6 separate regions of the Homo sapiens genome follow, and regions 2, 3, 4, 5 and 6 are each linked to region 1. Evidence: fine-mapped expression QTL. A gene starts in region 1. Each other region holds a variant in brackets. All regions are shown on one strand. Distances are from middle to middle. Region 1 holds the start of KIF1B (kinesin family member 1B). Region 2 overlaps LZIC (leucine zipper and CTNNBIP1 domain containing). Region 3 overlaps KIF1B (kinesin family member 1B). Region 4 has its middle 20 kb from the start of KIF1B. Region 5 overlaps KIF1B (kinesin family member 1B). Region 6 overlaps SPSB1 (splA/ryanodine receptor domain and SOCS box containing 1).

The links. PIP is the estimated chance that this variant, and not a neighbour inherited with it, causes the effect. A credible set is the group of variants that fine-mapping cannot tell apart.
Region 2: its variant is the best candidate, but not a certain one, in a credible set for the expression of KIF1B in aorta (GTEx, PIP 0.84).
Region 3: its variant is the best candidate, but not a certain one, in a credible set for the expression of KIF1B in whole blood (TOPMed, PIP 0.54).
Region 4: its variant is the best candidate, but not a certain one, in a credible set for the expression of KIF1B in whole blood (INTERVAL, PIP 0.50).
Region 5: its variant is the best candidate, but not a certain one, in a credible set for the expression of KIF1B in tibial nerve (GTEx, PIP 0.57).
Region 6: its variant is the best candidate, but not a certain one, in a credible set for the expression of KIF1B in visceral fat (GTEx, PIP 0.59).

What each region holds. Positions count from the first base shown.
Region 1 is chr1:10,208,649-10,212,736 of GRCh38, forward strand. It overlaps KIF1B (kinesin family member 1B), which reads left to right and starts at 1,922. Exons shown (of 49, transcript NM_001365951.3): 1 at 1,922-2,230. RefSeq lists silencers at 1,143-1,437, 1,524-1,603, 1,634-2,153 and an enhancer at 3,055-3,710.
Region 2 is chr1:9,938,272-9,942,359 of GRCh38, forward strand. All of the region lies in intron 2 of LZIC (leucine zipper and CTNNBIP1 domain containing), which reads right to left. Among named protein-coding and RNA genes, the nearest start is that of LZIC, 3.1 kb to the right of the region's middle. RefSeq lists enhancers at 553-1,053, 1,054-1,554. The variant A/T (reference allele first, on the strand shown) is at 2,147.
Region 3 is chr1:10,243,136-10,247,223 of GRCh38, forward strand. The region is part of intron 2 of KIF1B (kinesin family member 1B); the gene reads left to right. Among named protein-coding and RNA genes, the nearest start is that of KIF1B, 35 kb to the left of the region's middle. RefSeq lists enhancers at 984-1,485, 1,486-1,985. The variant C/A (reference allele first, on the strand shown) is at 1,838.
Region 4 is chr1:10,188,651-10,192,738 of GRCh38, forward strand. No RefSeq gene overlaps it. Among named protein-coding and RNA genes, the nearest start is that of KIF1B, 20 kb to the right of the region's middle. RefSeq lists an enhancer at 989-1,038. The variant T/TTTTA (reference allele first, on the strand shown) is at 1,540.
Region 5 is chr1:10,362,191-10,366,278 of GRCh38, forward strand. KIF1B (kinesin family member 1B) reads left to right here. Exons shown (of 49, transcript NM_001365951.3): 41 at 1,093-1,154; 42 at 2,910-3,055; 43 at 3,219-3,458. Among named protein-coding and RNA genes, the nearest start is that of PGD, 35 kb to the right of the region's middle. The variant A/G (reference allele first, on the strand shown) is at 1,740.
Region 6 is chr1:9,334,497-9,338,584 of GRCh38, forward strand. The region is part of intron 1 of SPSB1 (splA/ryanodine receptor domain and SOCS box containing 1); the gene reads left to right. Among named protein-coding and RNA genes, the nearest start is that of SPSB1, 44 kb to the left of the region's middle. The variant CAGACCATGTTTCT/C (reference allele first, on the strand shown) is at 2,522.

The DNA of each region.
Region 1 (4,088 bases):
GCCTGGTTCTTCACTACGTTTTAGATTCTTTTTAGATTGTGCTCCATTGAGAGCTCAAGCAATACAGCCACCCAGGTTTTCGTAACTCTCCATGGCGCTCACCACAGTATTTACGCAAGGAGGTCCACGCTATGATGAAGTGGTGTCTACTGTTGAATTGATGAGTTCCTCTTTATTAACCTACTATAGTTTCATTTTACTCTTAGCCGTCAGGAAGCTAAGAGCTGAGTTCTGTGCTCAGTGGCAACATATTTCCTTGACTATGGATTTTTAAAATATTGTTTTTCTGGCCGGGCGCGGTGGCTCATTCCTGTAATCCCAGCACTTTGAGAGGCTGAGACAGGTGGATCACCTGAGGTCAGGAGTTCAAGACCAACCTGACCAACATAGTGAAACACCGTCTCTACTAAAAATACAAAAATTAGCCGGGCGTGGTGGCAGGCACCTGTAATCCCAGCTACTCGGGAGGCTGAGGCAGGAGAATCGCTTGAACCTGGGAGGCGGAGGTTGCAGAGATTTGACATCGTGCCACTGAGCTCAGCCTGGGCGAGAGTAAAACTCTGTCTCAAAACAAAACAAAAAAATTTTTCTTTCTAGGCATGCCTCTCATTCAAACAGCTTTTAAAAAGTCTCTTGCTTGTTTCATTATTATGAATTTTACGCCTATTTTAAAGCTATACGGTTTCACTGCTGTATGCTTTAGTGTAAGCTATGTCAAATCCTTTTGCAGGTAGGTGGAGCTTAAATTCTATAAAATGAGACGTGATCAATAAAAGCGGATGAAGAGTCTGAGGACTTGAGTGGTGGTGGAGATTTTCCAGAATTATTAGTGTAGAAAATTAATTTCGATGTTTTAGTGCATATGCTTGTACATAATACCTTTTACTCACAATAATACTGTATTTAATTCAGGGGAAGACATGTGATTTTACTTTCAATGTCTGCTAGTAAATAAAAATAATTCACAACCTTATAAAGTAATAGTGCTCGGCCTGGGCCTGATAATTGAATATATTATCACTGAAGATTATATTTTGTTAAGTACTGAATTGAACAGTTTCTGAACAGTGAGATTTTTCTTTCCAGCTGAATCTAAATCTGATTTTAAAGAAATCACTGCTCGTGCTTTTGTGTCCTCCGGGTTTCTAACTTCCACTCTCCCTCCTTCAAGGGCATCTCCCAGAAGGGGGCTGGGCTCGTTAACTCAGGGACGGTGCAAAGCGTTTGTTCCTCTCCTCACAGCCCTTCCGCGGTCTCCCAAGGAGACAAGTGGAATGCCCACCAAGTCATGCTTTTCCATTACTCATTCCGCCTTCTCTCCCGAGGTGGCGCGTGGGAGGTGTTTTGCTCGGGTTCTGTAAGAATAGGCCAGGCAGCTTCCCGCGGGATGCGCTCATCCCCTCTCGGGGTTCCGCTCCCACCGCGCCGCGTTCGGCCGGTTCCGCCTGCGAGATGTTTTCCGACGGACAATGATTCCACTCTCGGCGCCTCCCATGTTGATCCCAGCTCCTCTGCGGGCGTCAGGACCCCTGGGCCCCGCCCCGCTCCACTCAGTCAATCTTTTGTCCCCGTATAAGGCGGATTATCGGGGTGGCTGGGGGCGGCTGATTCCGACGAATGCCCTTGGGGGTCACCCGGGAGGGAACTCCGGGCTCCGGCTTTGGCCAGCCCGCACCCCTGGTTGAGCCGGCCCGAGGGCCACCAGGGGGCGCTCGATGTTCCTGCAGCCCCCCGCAGCAGCCCCACTCCCCGGCTCACCCTACGATTGGCTGGCCGCCCCGAGCTCTGTGCTGTGATTGGTCACAGCCCGTGTCCGTCGCGGGCGCCGGGGCGGATACGAGGTGACGCGCAGAGGCCCAGCTCGGGGCGGTGTCCCGCGCCGGCGACTGCGGGCGGAGTTTCGCGAGGGCCGAAGCGGGGCAGTGTGACGGCAGCGGTCCTGGGAGGCGCCCGCGCGCGTCGGAGCAGCTCCCCGTCCTCCGCAGCCGTCACCGCCGGCCGTCGCCGCGCCCTGGCCTCCCGCACTCGCGCACTCCTGTCCGCCGCCCACCGCCCACCTCCCACCTCGATGCGGTGCCGGGCTGCTGCGTGATGGGGCTGCGGAGCGGCGCCCTGCGGCTCGCGGCGGCCGCTGCTCGCGCTGAGGTGCGTCGGTGCCCGGCCCCCCGCGCCCCCGCGCGCCGCGGCTCCTGTTGACCCGGTCCGCCCGTCGGTCTGCAGCGCGGCTGAGGTAAGGCGGCGGGGCTGGCCGCGGTTGGCGCCGCGGTCGCGGGGTTGGGGAGGGGGCCGCTTCCGCGGGGAGGAGCGGCCGGGCCGGGGTCCGGGCGGGGTCTGAGGGGAGGTAGCGCGGGACGGGCGCCGGGTGCGGGAGCCTCGCCCTCGGGGGAGGGGACCCCTCCCTAGGCCAGCAGCGAGTCCCGGGCCGGCGTCCAGCGGTCGGCTGGGGCCCCCGCAGTGCCCTGCACCGGCCCTCCGTTTCCCCCGCGCTGCCAGGCCCCGGCTGTGCCCAGCGCTCTCCAGACCCGCCGCTGCCTGGCCGTTCCCTGGGCTCCGCGCACGTTGCAGCCCGGGGGGCGGCTGTGCTTCGTTTGAAGCCATCGTTTCTCATTTTCCCTCTCCCCTTTCCTCCTTTGTGGTGGGCATCGGGCTTCGGCTGGGAATGTGGTTATGCCCTTTGCCAGATGGCGATAGGAAAGGTCATCGCTTGGCGCTGGGGGAGCCGAGGGCTCGAGGCCTGGAAAGAGGGGTGCGATAGGAAGGGAGGGGGCTTGTTGGATGCTGGCCAGGTGTGAGGAAGGCTGGTGTGGTCTCGGCATTCAGCCGACTGGGATTACTCGGGCAGCCATATTGGGAGGATGATCTGACAAATCCTTTAGGAGCCAAGTCCAGTTGTTGGAAGGCACCGAGTGACAGCCCTGGCAGCTTTCAGGGTGACTGGCCAGACCAGAAGCCAAGTTGTGGGGGTTGGGAGGCTGCTTGAGCAAGCTAGTCATTGTTCATGCAACACAAAACATTCCCGCCCCTAACGCCAGAATGGAGCTTCCAGATCCCTTTTTTTTTTTTTCCTTGATTGCTAAATGAGCTTCCAAGGTAAACTGCCTTCAAGATTCCATTCTTGTTGGGGTGAAATTCCGTGTTTCTCTATTCATCTTCTGCGTCCAGTGCGGGGGCTGTGAAAGGCCTGCTGATGCTTTACATGTGCATAGGCCGATCTGAGAATTGCTAAGGCCACTGTATCAGTATGGAGGCCTCGAGTAGCCGTAGAGCATTGGATGGATAGATTTTCAGAGTCGCTCGACTTGCAGAGAAGAAGTAAACCAGAGTATTCTGATAGTGGGCGAGGCTAGTGGCGGCATTTCTGAGGACGCAGGCTGTCATCTTTGTGGAATCTCGAGGTAGCTGAAATTAGATTGTCAACAGATCCCTTGCTCATATCTCTTACTGCTCTGAGCAGCTGTTCTGCCACCATTGAACATTCCGCTTTGTGTCATGATGTGCCTGTCTGAGCCTGATGAAAGTGTGCTGATGAGATTTGAATAACTCTTAAGAGGTGATATCATGGTGGATATTTTATTTAAAGGCTGGCATTTTGTCTCCTTAGTTTAGTCATAACAAAATCTAGTTCTTGTGTTCCTCTAAGAAGTGAGGTGGTGCTTTCTGATTAAGTTGATATGGTTGCTGGATTATAGAGCAAGTGTTGTTAATGTATTGTTTGAAGGTGGAATATGAGAATTACACATAGGTTGGTATTGTAAAGCAGGTCTGGAGATGATCAATAACTGGGTTCAGCATGAGTCTGTAGATCTGTTCTTTTCTATATCCTAGATGTGGACAGGACCTGGAGAGATGGCATGCCTGCTTTCTTCTTTGTGGCCTTTGCTTTCATTCAAGTTCAATTTGTTCATAAATACATTCTCATAACTTCTCAGGTTGAACTATGTAAAAAATTTTGGGATGGGTGTGGTGGCTCATGCCTTGTAATCCCAACACTTTGGGAGGCTGAGACAGGAGGATCCCTTGAGCTCAGGAGTTCGAGACCACCCTGGGCAACAGAGTGGGACTCTGTCTCTACAAAAATAAATGAATAA
Region 2 (4,088 bases), 270 kb before region 1:
ATCTTCCCACCTCTGCCTCCTGAGTAGCTGCAAACACAGGCACACACCACCACACCTGGCTAATTTATTTTTTTGTAGAGATGGGGTCTCCCATGTTGCCCAAGCTGGTCTTGAACTGGGCTCAAGAGATCCTCCCACCTCAGCCTCCCAAAATGCTGGGATTATAGGTGTAAGCCCACAAGCCCAGCTGATGAACATCTTTTAATATGAATTTCTTCTTTGGAAATGTGACCATCTTTCTGCTGGGTTATCTTTCTCTTACTGATTTATAACATGGATACAAAGCCTTTGGCTTTTTTGAGACAGGGTCTTGCTCTGTCACCCAGGCTGGAGTGCAGTGGCATGATCATGGCTCATGCAGCTTTGACCTCCTAAGATCAAGCAATGAAGCCTTTGTAATTGCAAATATTATTTCGTCTCCTGACTAAATTTTATGTTTTTTTGTCATGGCAAATTATTATTTTTTAATAGACAAATCTATCTTCTCCTTTAAATCTTCTTCGTTTTGTGACCCATGAAGGCAGGCCCTAACCATCTCAAGATTTATACATCTTTATATTCAAGACTTTTACAAATTTTTGTTTTCTAGCTGCAGACAAAAGCCACCTGCAACATTTTTTGTTATGCTTTGAAGTAGGGGTCTAACTTTCCTTTCAAAAACACCCTTTACTAATCAGTCTTTTATTTATTGATCCAGGAGAATTTGGTCTACAATAAAGGTGGCATATTGATTAATAAATAAAAGACTGACTAGTAAAGGGTATTAGGGCAATTGGCTAGTCATTGATAATTTTCTGTTCCTAAGGAATCACTTCTTTTTTTTTTAGACTGAGTCTTGCTCTGTCGCCCCGACTGGAGTGCGGTGGCACGATTTCGGCTCACTGCAACCTCCACCTCCTGGGTTTCAGCAATTCTCCTGCCTCAGCCTCTTGAGTGCGTGCCACCACGTCCGGCTAATTTTTGTATTTTTAGTAGAAATGTGGTTTTGCCATATTGGCCAGGTCGGTCTTGAACTCCTGACCTCAAATGATCCACTCACCCCAGCCTCCCAAAGTGCTAGGATTACAGGCATGAGGCACCCCACTTGGCTTTTTTTTTTTTCTTTTTTTTTTGACACAGAGTATCGCTCTGTCACCCAGGCTGGAGTGCAGTAGGCTGGAGTGCAGTGATGTGATCTCAGCTCACTGCAACCTCCACATCCTGGGCTCAAGTGATTCTCCTGCCTCAGCCTCCTGAGTAGCTAGGATTACAGGTGTGCCACCACATCTGCCTTTTTTTTTTTTTTTTTTTTTGGTATTTTTAGTAGAGACAGTGTTTCGCCATGTTGGCCTTGGCCTCCTAAAATGCTGGGATTACAGGCATGAGCCACTGTGTCCAGCCCTCAGGCAACATTTCTTGCTATTTACATTATTATGGCTTTATCACTGATATATCTCGATAACTGATAATGACTTGCCTTTATTGTTTTCTCCTCCCCAAAATTCTTGGCTCTTCTTGTGCACTTTCTCTTCCAGATGAATTTAACAATCAGTATGTCAAGTTTCATTAAATATCCTATTGACTGGGGCCAGGCATGGTGTCTCACACCTGTAATCCCAGCACTTTAGGAGGCTAAGGCAGGCAGATCACTTGAGACCAGGAGTTACAGACCAGCCTGGCCGACACGGCGAAACCCCGTCTCTACAATAAATTAAAATATTAGCTGGGCATGGTGGTGTGTGCTTGTAGTCCCAGCTACTTGGCGGGCTGAGGTGGGAGAATCATCCAAGCCTTGGAGGCAGAGGTTGCAGTGAGCTGAGATTGTGACACTGCACTCCAGCCTGGGAGACAGAGTGAGACTCCTACTCAAAAAAAAACAAAAAACAAAAAACAAACCACAAAACTTTCCAGGTAACTTATTAAAACATGTTTTTTGTTTGTTTTGAGACAGAGTCTTGCTCTGTCGCCCAGGCTGGAGTGCAGTGGAGCAATCTCAGCTCACTGCAAGCTCCGCCTCCCGGGTTCACACCATTCTCCTGCCTCAGCCTCCCGAGTAGCTAGGACTATAGGCACCCGCCACCACGCCCAGCTTATTTTTTTTGTATTTTTTAGTAGAGACGGGGTTTCATCGTGTTAGCCAGGATGGTCTCGATCTCCTGACCTCGTG[A/T]TCCGCCCACCTCAGCCTCCCAAAGTGCTGGGATTACAGGCGTGAGCCACTGCACCCGGCCTAGTTTTTGTATATTTTTTTTAGTAGAGACAGGGTTTCACCATGTTAGCCAGGATGGTCTCAATCTCCTGACCTCGTGATCCGCCCGCCTCGGCCTCCCAAAGTGCTGGGGTTACAGGCGTGAGCCACCGCACACAGCATTAAAGCATGTTTTATTTTCCTACACATAATGAAATCATTACCAGATGATTTGACATGTGTACTTCATTGGAGAGGATTCTTACAGTATATTCAAAATTAAATATAATGACAAAAAATTACTACCTAATCTATTAAAATTGGCATAAGTCATCTATGATCATTAATGATATGCAAACATAAACAAGTATTATACCCAGAAGTGTAATTTATTGTAGCTACATCTTATGTATAATAGTTTAGTGGATTTTTCCTGGAAATTGTCCATTTTAATTTTTCTCTTAAGTCTGTGGAATTTTCCAGTAAAAGTCAAGGCAAACCCAAGATGTAACTGACAATGTCTTTTCAGAGTTAGTTTCCTACAGTCTAACCACACTGGATGACTTGCTGTTCCAAAAATGTCATGCACTTTTTTGAGCCTGCATTTTTTTTTCTACCTATGAAGCCCAGTTCATTCTTCAAAGTCTAGTTCAAGTGTCACCTTCTCTACAAGGTCTTCCTTGATTTCCTCCCAATCACTAGGTTGTGAATTATTTAAGTAGGGATTTTACCTTTTCTTTCTTTCGTTCGTTCGTTCTTTCTTTCCTCTTTCTTTTTTTTTTGATGGCGTCTCACGGTCACCCAGGTGGAGTGCAGTGGCATGATCTTGGTTCACTGCAACCTCTGCCTCCTGGGTTCAAGTGACTCTCCTGCCTCGGTCTCCCGAGTAGCTGGGAATGTAGGTGCCCGCCACCACGCTCAGCTGATTTTTGTACTTTTAGTAGAGATGAGGTTTCACCATGTTGGCCAGGCTGGTCTCAAACTCCTGACCTCAGGTGATCCGCCTGCCTCAGCCTCCCAAAATGCTGGGATTACAGGTGTAAGCTATCGTGCCTAGCCTTTACCTTTTTTTTTTTTTTTTTTGAGATGGAGTCTCACTCTGTCGCCAGGCTGGAGTGCAGTGGCACGATCTCGGCTCACTGCAACCTCCGCTTCCCAGGTTGAAGAGATTCTCCTGCCTCGGCCTCCCAAGTAGCTGGGATTACAGGCACGCACTACCACGCCCAGCTAATTTTTGTATTTTTAGGAGAGACGGGTTTCACCATATTGGCCAGGATGGTCTCGATCTCTTGCCCTCGTGATCTGCCTGCCTCGGCCTCCCAAAGTGCTGGGATTACAGGCGTGAGCCACCGCACCCGGCCTTTACCTTTTCTTTATACACCAGCATCCAGCACAATCTTGGACAGACAAAAAGTGCCGAATAAACAACTGGTAGATGAATAATGAGAATTGATTGCTTCTTCTTTAGCATTCAAATCTTTTTTTTTAAAATTTTTTTTGAGACGGAGTCTCGCTCTGTCGTCCAGGATGGAGTGCAGTGGCGCGATCTCGGCTCACTGCAACCTCAGCCTCCTGGGTTCAAGCAATTCTCCTGCCTCAGCCTCTCCAGTAGCTGGGACTACAGGCATGCGTCACCACATCTGGCTAATTTTTGTATTTTTAGTAGAGATGGGGTTTCACCATGTTGTCCAGGCGAGTCTTGAACTCCTGACCTCTGGTGATCCACTTGCCTCAGTCTCCCAAAGTGATGGGATTACAGGCGTGAGTCACCGCGCCCAGCTCAAATCTTATTCTCTATTTAGCACTTATTTCTGCCTTTAATTATATATGATTTTATTATAATACGTTATCTCCTCTGACTAAACTCTGGAGAACAGAATATGAGTCTGATTCCTCTCTCAGCTTTCTCAGTACCTAATACAGA
Region 3 (4,088 bases), 34 kb after region 1:
GCCAGGTGTGGTGGCTCACGCCTGTAATCCCTGCACTTTGGGAGGCTGAGGCGGGTGAATCACTTGAGCTCAGGAGTTCGAGACCAGACTGGCCAACATGGTGAAGCCCCGTCTCTACTAAAAATACAAAAAAATTAGCTGGGCCTAGTGGCACATGCCTGTGATCCTAGCTACTCGGGAGGCTGAGGTGGGAAGAACGCTTAAACCTGGGAGGCAGAGGTTGCAGTGAGCCAAGTTCGTGCCACTGCACTCCAGCCTGGGTGACAGAACAAGACTGCGTCTCAAAAAACAATTGCCTTTTAGTGGGGGGAAAAAATACCATAATTAGTAATTAAAAACAACAAACGCTTAAGTTGTGCCAGGCACAATTAGGCAGATTTTAACTTACTGAATCCTTGCAATAATTATATGGCAGGTACTCTTTCCCCATTTCACAGATGAAGGAATTGATACAAAGAGGTATTATTGGCTGTCTTGCCTGGGCTCACATATCTATTAATTGAGGGAAGTAGAAAATGAAGTTGGGCTGTCTCCAGAACCCTTACTATTGGAGAGCATATCACCTCTCACAATATTTATTAAGTTTTACTATTCTGTGCAGTAATGCTGAATGTCTATGCTTAATTTGAATTTAACTTAGATTAAAATTTATTTTGATTTATTTTCTTGATGGAGGGAAATTATGAGGAAAAAGCTGCGGGGAAGGGGCAGATGATTATCAGTTTACATGTCTTTGGGCATTTTAGGTAGAGTGAAATCTAGGCCTTGCAAATCATATCTCTTTAGAATCATTCAAAATTTGCTTAGGAAGAGCAGAATTGTTGATTGTTTATTCAATGTGTATGCTAAGTAACATGTTTTATAGAAGAGTTATAATTTTTTTCCTATTTTCCTATTGTATATTTGTTTTTTAATACTCTGGGATCAAGTATACAGTGAATATGTATAGTACATTTATCCCTGTTTTATAAAAAAATGGGAAACTAAATTTGTTGTAAATGATTAAGGAACTTTATGATTATAGATCTTTTGCTCAAATCTTTATGGCAATAGGTTTTACTATGTTTCTATATTGTGAGGAGGGGAGCGAGTTGCCTGTGGGTTTTGGTTTTATGGTTTTAAAATATAAGCAGTGTATAAAATATTTTTATTGTGTGCCATTTTTCTTTTTTTTCTTTTCTTTTTTTTTTTTTTTTGAGATGGAGTTTCGCTCTTGTTGCCCAGGCTGGAGTGCAATGGCCCGATCTCGGCTCACCGCAACCTCCGCCTCCCAGGTTCAAGCAATTCTCCTGCCTCAGCCTACCAAGTAGCTAGGCTTACAGGCATGCACTACTACGCCCGGCTAATTTTTGTATTTTTAGTAGAGACAGGGTTTCCCCATCTTGAGGCTGGTCTCGAACTTCTGACCTCAGGTGATCCGCCCGCCTCAGCCTCCCAAAGTGCTGGGATTACAGGCCTGAGCCACCGCGCCCGGCCCTCCTTTTTTTTTTTTTTTGAGACGGAGTCTTGCTCTGTCGCCCAGGCTGGAGTGCAGTGGCGTGATCTCTGCTCACTGCAAGCTCCGCCTCCCGGGTTCACGCCATTCTCCTGCCTCGGCCTCCCGAGTAGCTGGGACTACAGGCGCCCACCACCACGCCTGGCTAATTTTTTGTATTTTTAGTAGAGACGGGGTTTCACTGTTTTAGCCAGGATGGTCTCAATCTCCTGACTTCGTGATCCGCCCGCCTCGGCCTCCCAAAGGACTGGGATTACAGGCATGAGCCACCGCGCCCGGCCGCCATTTTTCTTAATTGTTGCTCTAGGAGGCTTTTAGAGCGGAAGATTGTGCTGAAGATGT[C/A]ACTGGGATTTTTAACAAGCCCTAAACGTGCTTGGTTACTAAAGTTAATATAAAGTTACAGTGTTGCCACACAGATAACATCAATTATAGTTGCAGGCAAAATCTTTAGTAGTTTGCCAACAACAGTATAATTACTAGACACTGAGATATTAGATAAATTTATTCTGGGGAATTAAAAGGCGTTTAAATACTAATCTTGTTTTGACTGCCTTATTTTCTAGGGCTCAGTAATTAAAGTGTTATTTCTGCATCTTTATGCTAAAGTAGCAAAGTTGTGAATAAGGCAGGGAGAAAAGGGGGTAAAATTAGGGAATTTAGTAGACTGTCTTAAGTCTTAACTTGAAACTTCTTCAAGAAAGAGAAGATGGTCAGTTGTGGTTCATCAGTAAACTAAGACCTTTGAAACATTTTGTGATAGTCATTTTGATAGCATTTACGTTTATCTTGGATAAAAGTCTTCAAGTCAGCCTTTATGGAAATTATAGTGTCCTGCCCTTCTCCAGCTCTCCTAAGGTTAGTGTTGGCTACACCATTAGGAATAAAAAACCTGAAGACAAAAGGGAAAAGATACAAAAGTTGTATGGAGAGGATAAAGGAAGGATCATTTTTCCTTTGGACTTGGAAAAAAATACATTTAGGTCTTAGATGTTAAAGCTGCCTTTTAGATTTATGAAGGAAAATTTAGGAAAACAGCCTTGAAACCTCATGGGATTTGGATGGTAACCAAGAGGCAAGGCCTGGAGGTGAGAGTGAGCAGAGCAAGTTATTGGGGAAATCAGGAGATAGCCTGAACTCATTCTTCTAGAGAGTCCTGTAAGTGGTTATGATGATAATCATTGTAATAAAGGTAGGGAATATAACGTGACTGACTACTTCAAACAGTTCATTTTCTTGGCTCTTAGTACCCCATACTCTCCTAATTGCCTTCCTTCCTCCCAGGTTGGTTATTCTTTACCTCCTTCGGTTAAAGTCCACCAGGCTTTTGTCCTCAGATCTCTCTCTCCAGAAAAGAGAGACGCCCTAGATGATTTCTTCTAGTTCTGGGGGCTTAAATGTCATTGAGATGGTGATAACTCCCAGATTCACTTCTGTAGCCTGGACCTCTCTCTAGAAGTATAGACTTGGCTACCCAGCTGCCAACTGAACTCTACTTGAAGGCCACAGAAGCATCTCAAACTCAACATGTCCTAAACATAACTATTGTTTTTTCCCTTCCTGACCACCCAGAGTGGCTCCTCCTTTATTTTTATCAATTCTTTTAGTTGCCTAGACCAAAAATATTGGAGTCATTCTTACCTTCTCCGTTTTTCTCATAGGCCACATATATCAATCAGTAAGTCTTGCCATCTTTGCCTTCACAATATATCCTGAATCAGTTACTTTTTGCCATTTCTACTCTAGTCAAGATAAGTACTGCAATAGCCTCCTGTCTCTCTGCTTTTGCCCTTGTTTCCATGCAGTAGCCAGTCATATTTTAGAAATATACATCAGGGCTGGGTGTGGTGGCTCACGCCTGTAATCCCAGCACTTTGGGAGGCCGAGGTGGGCGGATCACGAGGTCAAGAGTTGGAGACCAGCCTGGCCAACGTGGTGAAACCCCGTCTCTACTAAAAATACAGAAATTAGCCGGGCATGGTGGTGCACGCCCATAGTCCCAGCTACTCAGGAAGCCGAGGCAGGAGGATCGCTTGAACCTGGGAGGCGAAGTTTGCAGTGAGCTGAGATCGTGCCACTGCACTCTAGCCTGCTGGGCGACAGAGTGAGACTCTGTCTCAAAGAAAAAAAAGAAATATAAATCAGATTATGTCACCCCTTTGCAATCAGATCATGTCACCCCTCTGCTTAAAATTCTTCACTGGTTTCCTGTCACATTTATTTCATTTTAATGTAATTTTAAATTTTTTTTGTAGTCAGAGTCAGAGCCTCTGTCGCCCAGGCTGGAGTGCAGTGGCATGATCTAGTCACACTTGCAGCCTCTGCCTCCCAGGTTCAAGCTGTTCTCGTGTCTCAGCCTCCCAAATAGCTGGGACTACAGGTGCGTGCTACCACACCCAGCTAATTTTTGTATTTTTAGTAGAGACAGGGTTTTGCCATGTTGGCCAGGCTGGTATCGAACTCCTGAGCTCAAGCAATATGTCCACCTAGGCCTCCCAAAGTGCTAGGATTACAGGTGTGAACCACTGCGACCAGTCCTTATCACTTTTAGAATAAAACTAAAAATCCTCACTTTGGCCACACAGCCTCACAGAAT
Region 4 (4,088 bases), 20 kb before region 1:
TCCGCCTCCCAGGTTCAAGTGATTCTCTTGCCTCAGCCTCCCGAGAAGCTGGGACTACAGGTATGAGCCACCACTCCCAGCTAATTTTTGTATTTTTAGTAGAGACGGGGTTTCACCATGTAGGCCAGACTGGTCTCGAACTGCTGACCTCAGGTGATCCCCCTGCCTCAGGCTCCCAAAGTCCTGAGATTACAGGCGTGAGCCACCGCACCCGGCCTGCGGTCACATTTTTTACCCCATCTTTAGATATCGTCCCGAAAGTGCACTGTTTTTGATTTCTGACCAGAAGCCATTTCTTAATTTTTTAAATTTTTTTTTTTTTTTGCCAGTTCATCTCACATTTTTCTACAGGCAATGAAAGAAGCCAAATGGTATTTCATTATTCTGCCTTCACATCTCCTGACATAGATCATTGAGTTCACTTGGCAGATTTTCTCCTTTCCAAGTCACCGCAGACAACGGTGTTGACAAAATCTCCACCTCTAAGTAACAGAGGTCCCCTTTCCTGCAGTTTCCAACAGTATTTACTCACTTTCCTATAAGCCTCACTAACGGTGTTCTCAATACATTTTTATCCTCTGCCTACTAACTCCATCCCAAAGCCAATGCCACATGCATTATACTTTGTTTCAACAGCACCCACTTCCAAAGACCTAAATCTTAATCGCCCAAATCTAGTGGCTTAAAACAGAATCTATTAATATCTATCATGGGCTGGGTGCAGTGGCTCACCCCTATAATCCCAGCACTTTGCTTTGGGAGGCCGAGGCGGGCAGATCACCTGAGGTCAGGTGTTCAAGACCAGCCTGGCCAACATGGTAAAACCCCGTTTCTACAAAAAGTACAAAAATTAGCCAGGCATGATGGTGGGTGCCTGTAACCCCAGCTACTTGGGAGGCTGAGGCGGGAGAATCGCTTAAACCCAGGAGGCAGAGGTTGCAGTGAGCCGAGATCACACCACTGCACTCCAGCCTGGGCGACAGACTCCGTCTCAAAAAAAAAAAGAAATTGTTAATGTCTATCATGGTTTTGGGGTTGACTGAGCTCACTGGGCTGTTCTCACTCAGGGATCTTACACTGTTACCGTCAGATGGTGGCTGAGGCTAGAGTCACCCTTAGGGCTTCCTCACTCACATCTGGCTGTTGGCTGGCACACCCAGGTGTGCCCTCTCTGGAGCTAGGTTCCGAGAGCTAGCACCCTGAGAAGACCAGGCAGAAGCTGGGTTTCTATGGCCCAGCAGCCCAGAGGTCTTATGGTATCACTTCTGCTGTGGCCACAGGCATGCTCGGTTTCCAGGAGAGGAAACACAGACCCCACCTCTCAGTAGGGAGGAGTCTCAATGCCATGTTTCAAGAATAGCACGGAGGACTGGAGGTCTTGTTGCAGCTGTCTTAGAAACTAGAACTAGCCACACAGGTTTCTCCCTTTGTAAACTATCTATCCTTCTGTATGTGCTTTTCTGCCCTTTCTCTCGTGTTTTTTAGGTTTTTGTTTGTATTATTCTAGAACTTACTTCCTAGTCAGTTTTATTTTAATTA[T/TTTTA]TTTATTTATTTATTTATTTATTTATTTATTTAGAGACAGGGTCTCACTCTGTTGCCCAGGCTGGAGTGCAGTGGCATGATCACAGATCACTGCAGCCTCAACTTCCCAGGCTCCAGCGATCCTCCCACCTCAGCCTCCTGAGTAGCTGGCACTACAGGTGTGCACCACCACGCCTGGCTAATTTTTTGTATTTTTTGTGGAGATGGAGTTTCACTATGTTGCCCACTCTGGTCTCAAACTCCTGGGCTCAAGCAATCCTCCTGCCTCGGCCTCCCAAAGTGCTAGGATTATAGGTGTGAGCCCTTGTGCCTGGCCCACCTTTTCTTTGTTTTGTTGTTGTTGTTGTTTGTTTGTTTGTTTTGTTGTTGTTTATCTTTGGGCCCCATCTTTTTATTATAAAGTGTAACACCTGGCTGGGAGCAGTGGCTCACACCTGTAATCCTAGCACTTTCAGAGGCCGAAGCAGGCAGATCACGAGGTCAAGTGATCGAGACCATCCTGGCCAACATGGTGAAACCCCATCTCTACTAAAAATACAAAAATTAGCTGGGCATGGTGGCGTGCGCCTGTAGTCCCAGCTACTCAGGAGGCTGAGGCAGGAGAATCGCTTGAACCCAGGAGGCGGAGGTTGCAGTGAGCTGAGATCGCGCCATTGCACTCCAGCCTGGTGATAGAGCAAGACTCCATCTCAAATAATAATAATTATAATAATAATAATAATAAATAAAGTATAACACCTATGTTAGGCCATTCTCGCATTGCTATAAAGCAAGCTTGTCCAACCTGGGGCCCGTGGGCTGCAGGCAGCCCAGGACAGCTCTGAATGTGGCCCAGCGTAAATTCATGAACTTCCTTAAAACATTATGAGATTTTTTTTGCGATTTTTTTTTTTTTTTTTAGCTCATCAGCTATCGTTAGTGTTAGTGTATTTTATGTGTGGCCCAAGACAATTCTTCTTCTTCCAATGTGGTCCAGGAAAGCCAAAAGATTGGACACCTCTGCAGTGTAAAGGAATATATGAGGCTGGGTGATTTATAAAGAAAAGAGATTGAATTGGCTCATGGTTCTGCAGGCTGTACAAGGGTGGCACCGGTGTCTGCTTGGTGTTTGGGGAGCCCTCGGGGAGCTTTTACTCATGGTGGGAGGTAAAGGGGGAGCAGACACTTCACAGAGAAACAGCAGGAGCAAGGTGCGGAGAGGCGCCACTTACTCTTAAAACAACCAGATCTGGTAAGAACTCACTCACTATCACAAGTAGAGATGGCACCAAGCCACGAGGGATCCCTCCATGGCCCAAACACCTCCCACCAAGCCTCACCTCCAACACTGGAGATTACATTTCAATATGAGGTTTCGGCAGGGACAAATATCCAAGCTATTTCAACACTTAGTCAGCAAAATGAATGAAACATAGATGTACAATTCGGTAAATTATTATATGTGAGGCACAGTGGCTCATGCCTGTAATCCCAGCACTTTGGGAGGCAGAGGCAGGCGGATCACATGAGGGCAGGAGTTCGAGACCAGCCTGGCCAACATGGTTAAACCCCGTCTCTACTAAAAACACAAAAATTTGCAGGGTGTGGTGGTGCACGCCTGTAATCCTAGCTACTCCAGAGGCTGAGGCAAGAGAATTGCTTGAACTTGGGAAGTGGAGGTTGCAGTGAGCTGAGATTGCGCCATTGCACTCCAGCCTGGGTGACAGAGTAAGACTCTGTCACCCAGGCTGGGTGTGGTGGCTCATGCCTGTAATCTCAGCACTTTGGGAGGCCAGGGCGGGTGGATCACAAGGTCAGGAGATCGAGACCATCCTGGCTAACATGGTGAAACCCCGTCTCTACTAAAATTACAAAAAATTAGCCGGGCGTAGTGGCAGGCGCCTGTAGTCCCAGCTACTCGGGAGGCTGAGGTAGGAGAATGGCGTGAACCCGGGAGGCGAAGCTTACAGGGAACCGAGATAGCGCCACTGCATTCCAGCCTGGGTGAAAGAGCAAAACTCCGTATCAAAAAAAAAAAAAAAAGGCTTATTCTATTACTTGTTACTAATAGCATCTCTTATCTCTTTGAAGATATTTATTATGCTTATTTAAAACTTCTGTTGTGTCCAGTCCATTCATTCTGCTTCCCCTGATATAAACTGCTCAGTTTATTGTCTCCAATTTCTGGCCATTTGCTCCTCAGATGTCTGGTTATTTTCCTGGGGCTGCTAATCCCCTGGGTGTTACAACCCACCTGGATGGCAACAGCAGTGTGTACTGAGCAAGGTCAAGGCTCAGGCCCTAAGCTGTGCCCTCCTGGTGAGCGTGTGTGTGGACACGCCTGGTGAGCTGGAGGTGGACAGAGTTTGTGGCATTAAATTGTAGGCCATAATTCCCCATGTGCCGTCCCCACACGTCACCCTGCCGTTCAAGAAACCTTCCTGTGTCTCTCCTCCAGCACTGCTCTTTTCCAAGAGTCTTTTACATTTATTTTGTTTTATTTTATTTATTTTTGAGACAGCGTCTCACTCTGTTGCCCAGGCTGGTGTGCAGTGGCACAATCACGGTTC
Region 5 (4,088 bases), 150 kb after region 1:
CAGTGAAGGCCATACACAGTGGCTCATGTCTGTAATCCCAGCACGTTGGGAGGCTGAGGACAGAGAATTGCTTAAGCCTAGGAGTTTGAGACCAGCCTGGGCAACACAGACCCCATCTCCACAGAAAATTTTAAAATTACCCAGGTGTGGTGACACACACCTGTAGTCCCAGCTACTCAGGAGGCTGAGGTGGGAGGATCACTTGAGCTTGGGAGGTTGAGGTTGCAGTGAGCCATGATAGAGCCACTGCACTCCAGCCTGGGTGAAACAGTGAGACCCTGTCTCAAAATTTAAAAAAAAGAAAAGAAAAAGGAAAAAAAAAAAAAAGAAAGAAACAATACAATGAATACCTGTGTATCACCGCCCAGCTTAAAAATAAGTGTTACTAATACAATAGAAGGTATTATACCTCCTACTACTCACAATCCCCAGAAGTTGTTGATTATCATTTCATTCTAGTCATTGTTTCCCTCATATCGTCTCTCTTATAGTAAGAAAAGACAAATTTTTAGTTTTCACATTTATATTTTAAATTTTCTAGTTTATCATTCAATTTTATTCACCCTATTGAAATAAAGTGTTTAAAAGATAGAGATGAGGTGGGGCATGGTGGCTTATGCCTATAATCTCAGCACTTTTTGATGCCAAGGTGGAAGGATCACTTGAGGCCAGGAGTTCAAGACCAGCCTGGGCAACATAAGGAGACCCTATCTCTACAAAAAAACTTAAAAATTAGCTGGGTATAGTGGTGTATGCCTGAAGTCCCAACTACTCAGGAGGCTGAGGCAGAAGGATCACATTAGTCCAGGAGTTCGAGGCTGCAGTAAGTTGTGATTACATCACTGCACTCCAGCCTGGGTGACACAGGGAAACCCTATCTATAAAAAAATTAAATTGAGATGAAAGCGGACTCCTCTAGGAAAAGGTATGCTACTTAGGTTCAAAATAAGAAAAGAGCGGTGACAAATAAGAAATGCCTGGAATTATATTTGAGTCCCTGCAGAGAAGACACTATTTTAAGTAGCAGAAATTGAAATTTTCCTGTTTTTGTGCTTTAAGAGATTAAACAATTGTTTTATTTTCTTCAAATAGGAATCGAGTCACTGGCATTTACGAACTCAGCTTATGCAAAATGTCAGACACAGGTAGTCCAGGTAAGCTCTTGTGGATTGAGGAGGTGATAGTTATCTTTGTGTATGTTTCAAGTATCCTGTATTTAGGCTGGGCACGGTGGCACACACCTGTAATCCCAGCGCTTTGGGAGGCCAAGGCGGGTGGATCACCTGAGTCCAGGAGTTCAAGAGCAGCCTGACCAACATGGTGAAGCCCCCCTTTCTACCAAAAATACAAAAATTAGCCAGGTGTGGTGGCGCGTGCCTGTAATCCCAGCTACTCAGGAGGCTGAGGCATGAGAATTGCTTGAACCTGGGAGGCAGAGGTTACAGTGAGCCGAGATTGTGCCACTGCACTGCAGCCTAGGTGACAGAGTGAGACTCAGTCTCAAAAAAGAAAAAGAAAAAAAAATCAAATTATTAAGTCAGATTTGTTCTGTATTCTTTTTAATGTGTTTTTAAACTGCTCTTGTTCCTCTAGCTAGGCGGAGTTAAGCAGCACTTAGCATTTCTATGTTTGTAAACCGAAACATGAACAAAAGTTAAGGTTTTCTAATAGCATTTGATTAATGTGAGTTTGAGTCATTTTACAGAATATACATGGAAAACAAGTCAGGGCCCACAGGC[A/G]AGACTTAGATAAGTAAAGAAGACTTTGAGTATGAATCCAAGTAGCACCTAATTATTATACTATCCAGATAGTTTCTTGAGGAATTTTTTTAATTAATATAAATTCATGTATTTAATATGTAAAACCAGCATAATACTAAAAAAAATTAACAGGAAATAATAGAGGCTAAAGTTCTCTGTCATCTGTCAGCCAGTGAGCTACTGAGTGTGTGTATGTGTGTGTGTATTCCCTTCCGTCTTTTTAAAAATTTTTATTTTTAGGGACAGGATCTTTTTTTTTTTTTTTTTTTTTTGAGACAGAGTCTCGCTGTGTCACCCAGGCTGGAGTGTGGTGGCGCCATCTTGGCTCACTGCAACCTCTGCCTCCTGGGTTCAAGTGATTCTCCTGCCTCAGCCTCCTGAGTAGCTGGGTTTGCAAGCACCCACCACCATGCCCAGCTAATTTTTGTATTTTTAGTAGAGATGGGGTTTCACTATGTTGGCCAGGCTGGTCTCGAACTCCTGACCTCAGATGATAGCCCACCTCAGCCTCCCAAAGTGCTGGGATTACAGGCGTGAGCCATCACGCCCGGCCCCATAGTGTATAGACTACTACAGACTATTTAATATTTCTGCATTTTCACCTAACATCATAATTTTATCATTTTCTTAAATTGCATCCCAGTCTTCATAATTATCAAAGAATGTAAAACTCAGTTTTTAAAAACGTTCAGTTGCTTTGCTATTTAAACAAAATCCCATATATCTTCAGACCAAACTGTCTTAGTTTGCTACGTATAAGAATTATTAATTCGTGGCCAGGCGCGGTGGCTCACGCCTGTAATTCCAGCACTTTGGGAGGCTGAGGCAGGTGGATCACGAGGTCAGGAGATCGAGACCATCCTGGCTAACACAGTGAAACCCGGTCTCTACTAAAAATACAAAAAATTAGCTGGGCATGGTGGCGGGCACCTGTAGTCTCAGCTACTCGGGAGGCTGAGGCAGGAGAATGGCATGAACCCAGGAGGCGGAGCTTGCAGTGGGCTGAGATCACGCCACTGCACTCCAGCCTGGGCAACAGAGCGAGACTCCATCTCAAAAAAAAAAAAAAAAGAATTATTAATTCGTTTTGACCTAAACTTGGAATTGAATTTTTTTTCTGAAACAAAAACTTGTTTCCTCTTGTCTTAGGTATGCAGAGAAGGAGAAGAAAAATCTTAGATACGTCAGTGGCATATGTGCGGGGAGAAGAGAACTTAGCAGGCTGGCGGCCCCGTGGAGACAGCCTCATCCTTGAGCACCAGTGGGAGCTGGAGAAGCTGGAGCTCCTACATGAGGTATCCAGGGGCAGGGTTGTTCAGATGCAAGAACTCTCGGACAAGATTGCCAAAGTATCAGTCTTCCTCCCCGCTGCTGCATGTGATCATAGCTTTTCACTTTTCTCTCCTGAGGTCTTAACGAGCTTTGTGTTTGCTATAGCAGTAGTATTGATCTTCTCAGGTGGAAAAAACCCGCCACTTTTTGCTGCTGCGTGAGAGACTTGGTGACAGCATCCCCAAATCCCTGAGCGACTCGTTATCCCCCAGCCTCAGCAGTGGGACCCTCAGCACCTCCACCAGTATCTCCTCTCAGATCTCAACCACTACCTTTGAAAGCGCCATCACACCTAGCGAGAGCAGTGGCTATGATTCAGGAGACATCGAAAGCCTGGTGGACCGAGAGAAAGAGCTGGCTACCAAGGTGTGAATCCCTTCCTCTTTGCTGAACGTCTTCCCACAAGGCTCCACAAACTAGCCTCTCGGTTTATTCATTTTCAACACCTTTGTTCGAGGTGTTTGAAGGCCTGTGATAATACTGTGAATGTAGAAATAAAAAGACGCAGTTCCTACCCTCAACAAGCTTACAGGGCCAGGCACAGTGCCTGATGCCTATTATCCCACCACTTTGGGAGGCTGAAGCAAAGGGATTGCTTGAGCCCAGGAGTTAAAGACAAGCCCAGGCTAACATAGTGAGACCTTGTCTCTACAAAAACAAAAATTAGGCCAGGCATGGTGGCTCACACCTGTAATCCCAGCACTTTGCAGGGCTGAGGCAGGTGGATTACCTGAGGTCTGGAGTTCGAGACCAGCCTGGCCAACATGGTGAAACCCTGTCTCTACTAAAAATACAAAAATTAGCCAGGCGTGGTGGCGAGCGCCTGTAATCCCAGCTACTCAGGAGGCTGAGGCAGGAGAATTGCTTGAACCCAGGAGGCGGAGATTGCAGTGAGCCGAGATAGCTCCACTGTGCTCCAGCCTGAGCGACAGAGTGACACTCCATCTCAAAAAATAAAATAAAATAATAAAAAATTAAAAAATTAAAAAATATAAA
Region 6 (4,088 bases), 870 kb before region 1:
AGGCGTGAGCCACCGTGCCTGGCCAAATTTACCATTTTAAAACCATTTTTAAGAGTTCAGTGGCATTAGGTACCTTCATATTGTTGTACAACCATCACCGTTGTCCATCTCCAGAACTTTCTTATCTTCCCCAACGGAAACTCTGTGCCCATTCGTCACTGACCCCCCATTCCTGCTCCCCGGAGCTCCTGGCACTGACCCCCCATTCCTGCTCCCCGGAGCTCCTGGCAACCACCATTCAACTTTCTGTCTCTATGGATCCGATTGTCTTAGGTACCTCATGTAAGTGCAATCATATAGTATTTGTCTTTTTGTTACTGGCTTATTTTACTTCATATAACGTGTTCAAGATTCACTCATATAGCATGTATCAAAATGTCCTTCCGTGTTAAGGCTGAGTAATATTTCATCGTGGGGATGGGCCCCATTTTGCTTCTTTGTTCATCTGTCCGTGGACGCGGGTTGCTTGCACCTTTTGGCCATTGTGAACAATGCTGCTATGAACATGGGTGCACAAATATCTGTTCAAGGCCCTGCTTTGCATTTATTTGAGTGAACACCCAGAAGTGGATTTTCTAGGTCATATGGTAATTCTATTTTGAGTTTTTTGAGGAATTGCCGTATTGTTTTCTACAGGGCCTGTAAAATGCACCATTTTGTAAAATGGTGCATTTTCATTGGGTGATCTTTAAGGTATCTTTGTGCCTCAAAAGAATGTTGTGGGGTTAGGCACAGTGGCTCACGCCTGTAATTCTTGCACTTTGGGAGGCTGAGGTGGCCAGATCACCTGAGGTCAGGAGTTTGAGACCAGCCTGGCCAACATGGCGAAACCCCGTCTCTACTAAAAATACAAAAATTAACCAGGTGTGGTGGTGAGCACCTGTAATCCCAGTTACTCAGGAGGCTTAGACAGGAGAATCACTTGAACCCAGGAGGTGAAGGTTGCAGTGAGCTGAGATCACACCACTGCACTCCAGCCTGGGTGACAGAGCGAGTCTCTGTCTCAAAAAAAAAAAAAAGATCGTTGTGGGGTCGGGTGCAGTGGCTCACGCCTGTAATCCCAGCACTTCGGGATTCCAAGGTGGGAGGGTTACTTTAGCCCAGGAGTTCAAGACCAGCCTGGGGGAGATCCCATCTCTACAAAAACTAAAAAACTAGCTGAGCATGGTGGTGCATTCCTGTAGTCCCAGGTACTTGGGAGGCTGAGGCAGGAAGATCACTTGAGCACTTGAGCCCAGAAGGTTGAGCCTGCAGTGAGCCATGATCGTGCCACTGCACTCCAGCCTGGACGACAGGGCAGGACCCTGTCTGTGAAAAAAAGAAAGAAAGAATGTTGTGGTTCTCTGGTCCCTTGATCAGTGGCTGGACGATGATCTTTGGAGTTTTTACCCTCCGAATGTCAATGTGCACAGTAGTAACGATAGCTACCACCTAATGCATTCATACATATCAAGTACAAGGTACTCAGAGATGCCCCATGCAGAGCTGTGTAAGCATCCAGCACTGTTTGAGGACCTAGTGTGTGCTGGGAACCATAAGACTCTTCGTGTCTGTCCATTTTCTTCTCTGAGGCTCTCTGCAGGCTTCCAGGGTAGGCATTTATTGTTCTCGTCTCTGTAGGTGGAAAGTGAGCAGTGCTCTCTCATGTTGTTGGTTTGAAATGTTATTTCTCGGGTTGTTAACTCACTTTGAATTTTCTGTTTACTTAAAACAAATTTTCTAATTTTTCCTCCTGGTTCTTTTTTTTTGAGATGGAGTTTCACTCTTGTTGCCCAGGCTGGAGTGCAATGGTGTGATCTCGGCTCACTGCAACCTCTGCCTCCGAGTTCAAGTGATTCTCCTCCCTCAGCCTCCTGAGTAGCTGGGATTACAGGCACGCACCACTATGCCCGGCTAATTTTGTATTTTTAGTAGAGATGGGGTTTCTCCACGTTGGTCAGGCTGGTCTCAAACTCCTGACCTCAGGTGATCCACCTGCCTCGGCCTCCCAAAGTGCTGGGATTACAGGCGTGAGCCACCACGTCCGGCTCCTCCTCCTGGTTCTTTACTGCTTCCCCCAAAGCAAAAGGAAGAAAGAGGAGTGGGGGATCCTCTGCCCGCGTGCGTTCAAGGAAGAGTCTGGGGCAGAGGCAGGGGCAGGAGGCCGCTGCCTGAGTTCACCCGTGGCGCTGGGCTAGTGAGGACGCAACTCCTGGCCGGCTCGGGCAGGTCCCTCACTCTGAGACAATAAAAGGGCATAGTTGCTGTGTTCAGGGAGCCACTGCCCTTTGCTGCCTTTTCATTCGGTGATGAAACTGCACTGCTCCCTGGAAAGAGGGGGACACTAGCCCTCCATCTCCATTTATAGTTCTTTCTATAGTCCCTGTCCAGAGACCCAGGCGGGTACGGGTGAGTTTGGGGAAGGAGCCTTCTAACCTGGCACCTCCCCTTCTGGTGCCTGCTGGTCCCCACTGAGGGGCCGCTTCACAGTGCTGGGGCCTGACTCCCTATCGTGGCATTCAAGGCCCTTGGCATCTGGCTG[CAGACCATGTTTCT/C]AGCTCTCTCTGGCATCATTGCCCCAAATGCTCCTGGCATTCTAAGAAACTCCTCCATCAGTTCTGCTTGTCCCAATGAGAAGAGATGACAAGGGGCCTACATGAGAGGGGAAGGGGTGCTTTCTGGTCGTTTCCATCTGGTTGTCCTAGAAACGGTCCATTTATGTTACCAGCACATCAGAGTCAGGATCTGAGCCTCTAACCCCCGGGATTAGCTCCAGCTCAATGGCCTTCCCCCTCCAAGGCAGAGTGGAGGACAAGAGTTGGCCCTGAAGTCCCTCTAAGAGGCCAAGGACGGGGGCTCAGTGGGGGAAAGAGGAGAGGGCTCCTGACACTCAGGGGAGGAGTGTGGCCAGGGCAGGCACCTCACACCTGGCCAGCCACCTGCCCACCTAGCCAGTGAGATTGTTCACTCGTTTTAACTTTAAGGCCTCCATGGTTTGGGGACAGGAAGCCCTCTTTGGGGGGATGGGAGAACAGGGTGAGGCTGGGGGTAGGGGAGGGGTGCACCCTAACCTCGCACCCCAGCCCTCTGCGGGCTTTTCTCCCCTTCAGCTGTGAGTGCAGCGCCTCCAGCCTTGCTGAGGTGGGGTCCCCAGTTAGGTGCCTCTCTGGGGGTGGCATCCGCTCAGAGCCTCAGGCCACCCTCCTGATGGGGACTCCCTGGCCACCGGGGCCCTGAGCCAATATCCGTGGAGGCTGCAGAGCCGCTGGTAAGGATGAACCTCCCTGCTCCCTGCCTCCGTTCGTTCTCTTGCTCCCTCACTCTGTCTCTGTCTCTCCTGGGACGCCCCATGAAGCCAGGGCAGCTGCTCTAGCCGAAGATCAGCATGGGGAAAAACAGACCCAAGAGCACCTTTAGGGGCGGGAGGGGTAACTTAAGAGAGTGACCTGGTGGCTCTTCCGGTGAGGAAGGGACGTGGGTCTGCTGCCAACGCTCTGGCCAAGGTCAGCAGCCTGTCTCTGAAAAAAGGCAGGGATGGAGATGTCCCCACCTCCTCAGCTGGGGTGCAGGGAAGAGGGAGCAGGTTTGAATTGGTTCCTGGAAGACATTGAGTGCTCAGATGGGGGAGGGGCCAACATCTCTCCCTGCAGGTCCCCTGTCCCCTCGCTCCTCCCCCCAGACCTGGAGACATGGAGGTTGGCGGTTGGGGGGTGCCACTCAGCTCTCCCCTACCCCGTTTCTTCAGGCTTCTGCTCATGGAGACCTGGGAGACAGCCAAGGCCCTGGCCGTGGGCTCCCCAGGACCCCTTTGTGGGGTGCCCCTGCCCAGGGGAGACCCTGTCCCCAGGGAGGAGGTTCGTGACTGTATGGGGGCTCTGGGTGTGCTGTGACAGGAGGCAGTTGGGGATCCATGCCTAGGCTATCCTGGCTGCGCCTAAGGCCCCTCCAGGACAGCACTTGTGGGGGTCAGTGTACCTAAGGCCACCCAGGACAGCACTTGCTGGGGAGGACAGGGGGCACAGCCAGATGCTGCCCTGGCCACTCTCTTGCCAGCTCCGGCCTCGCCCAGGAGGAAGTATACTTTCTTCTTTGCTGGTGAGTTTCTGTTC